Regions from separate parts of the Homo sapiens genome. Here region 1 is linked to region 2. The links come from fine-mapping of genetic effects on gene expression. A gene starts in region 2. The other region holds a variant in brackets. All regions are shown on one strand. Distances are between the middles of the regions.

What was found. PIP is the estimated chance that this variant, and not a neighbour inherited with it, causes the effect.
Region 1: its variant is fine-mapped to the expression of RNF32 in testis (GTEx, PIP 0.97).

What each region holds. Positions count from the first base shown.
Region 1 is chr7:157,421,723-157,424,625 of GRCh38, reverse strand. No RefSeq gene overlaps it. Among named protein-coding and RNA genes, the nearest start is that of DNAJB6, 86 kb to the right of the region's middle. The variant A/T (reference allele first, on the strand shown) is at 1,677.
Region 2 is chr7:156,638,959-156,641,861 of GRCh38, reverse strand. RNF32 (ring finger protein 32) reads right to left here and starts at 1,088. Exons shown (of 9, transcript NM_030936.4): 1 at 1,051-1,088. RNF32-DT (RNF32 divergent transcript) reads left to right here and starts at 1,327. Exons shown (of 4, transcript NR_026865.2): 1 at 1,327-2,903. RefSeq lists a silencer at 1,188-1,497 and an enhancer at 1,066-1,657.

The sequences.
Region 1 (2,903 bases), 780 kb before region 2:
ACAGGCACGAGCCACTTCTCCCGGCCTAGGCGTGGATCTGAAGCTGCAGGTCAGGTCTCTCTTCTCCCTGAATTTGGGTTTTGTAAACCAGGCACCACCTGCCCGGCTCTGAGAGGCAGCCCTGGTCCCTGCCTGCTTCCTGTCCAGGTGAACGGTAGGCTGGGCTGCACCTCCCCTGGCTAGGGGGTTCTGGCCCTGGGCTTTGCACCTACACAGCACAGCAGTGACAGTGGCAGCCCGCTCTGTCCTCTCCTGAGAAGAAACGAAGTCAGCACGGGGAGAAACCCAGGACCGCCCAGGGATGGCGAGGGCCTGCCCTTGAGGAGTCCCCAGGGCATCACCGCCCCCTGGTCTGGGCTCAGAACAGCAGCGCCTCGCCAGGAACACTCAAACCCCAGCGACGAGGGGCCCAAGGCACCCAAACGCGGGAAGTCCATCTTTCCCGGGGTGCTCCCATCCCCAAATAACCTCCGGGAATCCCACGGGTGCTCACCCAGCCCAACTCTCCCCACGCCTGCCTGCCAGGACAGCGTCTAGAGCCCAGCCCCTTGGCGCCCTCGCCCTCTGAGATGCCCAACAGCCCTGCAGCCGCGTGGGTGGCCTCGTCAGGACACACAGGGCCCCCACACGGCTGAGGCCTCCCACCAGCGCCAGCCATGTCCACGCCTCGCTTGCCAAGAACCACGATTGTGGCCCTTCCTCAGTGCAACCGAAGGGCTCGCCTGGGAGGGTTCCAGATGCAGGAGAAAACTGTTTTGCCAAATAAAAAAAACTGTCAGAAACCTCTAAAATATGAATCTAGGGACGCCTTCCAGGCACCCTGCTCTGTCCACAGCCAGTGTGGGCTGCAGGGGAGCTGCCCTGACCAACCTGATGGAGGGCAGGACCCCTCTTAAGGACCAGGGCAGGCAGGGGGAGGAGTGCGGGTGCGTAGAAGCTCGCAGGGATGAGCGCTCATCTGACCTTTGACCTGGCCATCCCACTTCTGGGAATCCGCCCCAAAGACAACAGACAAGTCCAGGAAGGGACCCTGTGGGACCCTGTAGGAACAAGAACCTCCCCAGAAGTGGCAAAAAAATAAAACAGGATTTCCGCCTGCAGGAAGTCAGCCCGCAGGAGTAAGAACGGCACTGGGCTGTGATGAAGTCATCTCGGTACAAAGGAATTCTGTGCCACGAAAATATTCATGGAAATATTTCCTGATGCGATGTCTTTCCCAGCATATCGTTGGGTAAAGCACAGACTGCTGTGTGTCCACCAAGACAAGGTCTCCAGGTGGCAGGGATCATTTCTTTGTTTTCATATCTGCATTTCTGGTTTTTCTACCAATGATCAGGTATTCCCTGTATGTTGATTTTACTTCCAAAATTTAGGAATAAAATATTTAAAGTTAATAAAGTGAGTGCCTCTTCTCCAAGCAGACGGTGACCTCCTCCTTCGAATGCTCCCTGGTGACGCAGCTTTCTCTTGGGGCTTGGCCCTCAATGTACTCCAGTTAATTAATACTTTTCATCTGGGGTAGAAGGTACATTTCAGTACAAGCAAATGCCCAGTCAATAAGGGAAGACTTTTTTTTTTAGATAGGGTGGTCTCACTCTGTTGCCCAGGCTGGAGCACAGTGTCATGATCACAGCTGGGTGTACGCGATCCTCCCACCTCAGCCTCCGAGTAGCTGG[A/T]GCTACAGGTGTGTGCCACCACACCCGGCTAACTTTTTTATGTTTTTTGTAGAGACAGGGTCTCACTCAGTTGCCCAGGCTGGTCTGGAACTCCTGGGCTCAAGGGATCCTCCTGCCTCAGCCTCCCGAAGTGCTGGGATGACAGGCATGAGCCACCGTGCTCAACTCGGGAAGGCTTCTTTTCGGAAGACATCAAGCTGATAAAGGCAGGATGAGTAACAGGATGAGGAGGCCGGCGTTCTGCAGCCACTCACGAATGGTAGTCCAGACCCCAGATGCCGCTGCATAGCAAGGCAGCGGGAGATGAACGAGCTACCAGTCTCTGAGAGTGGAAGGGCCAGCACAGAGGTGAGAGACCCTCCACACCCTGGAGGAGCATGGCCCCAGCACCCCTACGGTGACTGCACTCAGCGTCTCCAGCAGGACCGCCAGGTGCGCACGGGGCTCCGCCACACAGGAGGAGGTGCCCGCGTCTCCTGCCCCACGCACGGGTTGTGCTGGGCCCAGATGTGTGACTGCAGGTCCTACGGCCCCCAGGACCTGCACAGGGGGCAGAGGATCCAGGTGAGCAACTCGGGGCGGGGGCAGGGGCAGGTCCGGAATGCGGCAGGTCTGCCGGTGAGGCGCACGGCCCTCCAGACGCCCAGGAAGGAAAAGCAAAGGCGGGAGTGAAGGATCGCCTCATGTTTATTTAAATATTATGTAATTAAGTTATAAATAAAAGTAACTTTTGTTTATGTTTAATGTATTGAAATGGAAGGAAATAAAAACAAATGGAAATGAAAGCCCATTGGGGCAGGTGCGGAAGCCGGACTCCCCTGAGGGCGCCTTGTTTGTGAATTCTGCTTTGGAACCATGCACATATTTACAGCAAACATTTCTTAAATCCTAGACGTTGAAAGTAAAAGAAAATAAATGAAGCTAAGGGTCTACGGAGTTGTTGGCTTAGCCACACCAAGAGGGATTATCTCAAGATTTATGCATCCCAGTGTCACAGCCTGAGAACAACCATGGGGCCGGGCGCGGGGGCTCACCCCTGTCATCCCAGCACTGGGAGGCCGAGGCGGGTGGATCACCTGAGGTCAGGAGTTCGAGACCAGCCTGGCCAACGTGGCAAAACTCCGTCTCTACTAAAAATACAAAAATTAGCTGGGCGTGGTGGTGCATGCCTGTAATCCCAGCTACTCGGGAGGCTGAGGCAGGAGAATCGCTTGAACTGGGAGGCGG
Region 2 (2,903 bases):
GTTCCACCCTGTATCTCATCAAGACAACTGAACTTGGAGAAATGGTGGAATTTAAAATACTGAAAGATCACTGCCAGAATTTTCTCAGTTCCTGCTTCCAAAATGCCTATAACCTGCAGAAGATACAGTTTGCATCACACTAAAAATGGTCCGGTCATAGCTGCAGTCTGCAATTTAATCTCAAGTTTCTACACAGTAGACCACTGTCATTAATATCAAGGTAAGAGCTTTTAAAACCTATACTCTCTTAAAGTCCTACGGTATCATTAAGTTTTAGAGTTTAAAATTCAGAATTTAAAGGTATTGAAAACCCTTCAAGTACCTACTCCAACTCCACTTTATAAATGAGAAAACCAAATACCAGGTGAGTCCTTCAATATATAATGAGCCTGCGGCACTGGTAGGGTTAGAAACGTAACCCTTGCCCAGTATTGAAAGCTAAGATTAACAGGAACCCGTTGCTTTGTAAATCCCAGTATTAAACGCTCAAGAGGCAGAGCTTGGTGGCAAAAACGATCACTGGGGTGCCAAAGCGAGTAACCTCAGCTAATTAAACACGCTCAATAAAAATACACGAGACCAAGCCTACGACGTAAAGATGCAATCCTACGTAGGGTCTTGGTGTTATCTCCTGCCTTCTGAACCCCGCTGACCGTTTTCTGAGGTTCCACTCATGCAGGAAGCGCGCGGTGACGAGGCTCCAATTCCTCTCAAAGCTGACACCACCCTGCACCTGGGGCCCCTGATGGCAGCCGGTCCTACCGGGTTCTAAAATTACCGACGTGGGATCACTGTTCTAAGGCTTTAGGCAGCCGTAAATTCGTACCCCTCAGATAGAAGGAGCTGTGGAAACTAACCAGGACCCCGAGTCCCCCAAGGAGGCTGCGCGCCGCTACGGGACCCGACCTCGCCTCACAGCTGCGGCCATCGCCGGCCCGGCTCGGAGGAGGCGAAAGCGAGGCCGCGGACGGCCCTCACCCCGAATCCATGGACCCCGCCCGCCTGGCGGGCCACCCTTCTTTCCGTCCCTCCCCCGAAGCCTCTCCGTGCCTCGACTCCTCCGCGAACACCGGAACCCAGGGACGTCTGCCCCTTTTCCCTCAGGCAACTCCCTGGCCGCCCACCGTTGCCGTAGCAACGCCCGCCTCCGCGCTCGCTCCCCGCGGGCTTGCTCACCAGCCCTGCCCCGCCCCGCCCCATACTGCGCATGCTCGCCAGCCCCGCCCGGCCCACATTGCGCATGCTTGCCAACCACGCCCTGTCCACACCACACTGCGCATGCTCGCCGGCCCCCGCCCCGCGCACGGCGTCAGCGTCTAGACGCAGGTGCGTTCCCGTCGAGGCTCGCGCAGCGGGCGTTTTTGGGGATCGCCTGGCGGGGGTGTTCGGGAGCCGCGGGCTGAAGCACGGGGGCGTGCAGGCGCCCAGGCCTCGTGTAGTGAGGGCCGAGCCCCGCGCCGGCTTCGCTGTAGTCCGCAGCCCCCGGCGGCTTTGTGGGCGCAGCCACGCTCCTCAGCCGCCCGCCCACCTGGGCCTGGGCCCCGGTTGTTTCCCTGCGGTGGCTGTGGTCGTTCCCGTTCCAGGGTCTCGAGCGCACCGCCCCTTCGCTGCGCTGTTAGTCGAGGGCAGTTTTCTGGGGGATCCCCCGATCCCCCCGCGCCGCTCAGGCGTCTTGGCTCGCGGAAGCGCAGGCGCCGACTGCCTGGCGTCGTCCGTGACTCCTGGCCCTTCTCTGTGGATCCCTTTGCTTCTCGTTGCGGGTTGTGTTTCCTGCTTCGTGGGCCTGGCCGTTTGCGTTTGGATGCAGGCCCGGGTGAGCCCTGCGTGGCCCGCTGGCCTTTTCCTGCTCCCTAGGTGACTGAGCCGCGTGTGTGACACATCGGAGTGAATTGAGGCAACGCGTTCCTTTCCAGGCTTGCAGCGGGCGGTGTCGTTCACGCTCCTGAGCAGAGCCTTCCGGTGCTTTACTCGACGCCACAAATAGTGCAGGGTTCCTCCCAGGGGCTGTCGCGAGCTAGAACTCTTCCCCGCCCCTGTGAGCTCGGGCTGTTCTTCCTCCTCCGCGTGGCTCACTCCAGCCTCGGATGTTTCCTCGCTGCACAGACCTGCTCGGGAAGACTCGAGAAGGCCACCCCAGGACTCCAGCTCTCCCCGGAAGGGCTTCCCCTCGGATTGCGTCTTGGCCCCTGGAACCCTCCCTCTGTATCCTCTGCTGTTCCTCTCTTGGCCTCCATTTGGGTTGTGGCCTGGATACTCTGGCTCGCTGCTTCCCTTCTCTTAAGGATCACAGCCCTGCACTGCCTGTCGTCCGGTGCCTGGAAACCATTGTATTTTTTGGTCTGATTTTGTAGTTGTTTGAGAACTTAAGTCTGGTCCCTCACACTCCATGCCCAGAAGCAGAAATGAGTAAAGTTTGTTTTATCTTTTCTTAATATGACAATTATTGTGTTGGTTCAACTTATGTTGTACTTTAATTAGAAGAAATTTGGCCGAAAATACAAGGAAAATATACAAATGCAAGTAATTTTTTTTAAACTTCCCTGAAAGCAGGGTCTAAAGAAATTACCAACCAACTTAGACTGGATCTAGAAGAAAAGGAAGGGTCTTTGCAGTCTTAGGACTCTTCCGTTCCGCGACGTAGGTGTTAGGATAACAGCCATAAATGGTTGTAAGACTTTGGGCTCAGATAAGTAGACTTAAGTTCAAATTTTGACTTATTTTACAAGTGTGTGATTTTTGGCAAGCTCATCTTCCTAAACCATGAGCTCCTTATTTGTAAAGGGGACATTAGCCACTCTCCAGCAACAGCCCTGGTACTTCTTCAGTCCTGGGATGGGACGTATGATTAGCCTAAGCGAACCAGAAAATCCAGGCCCGTGACCAGTGACTTGATCAGGGCTGGC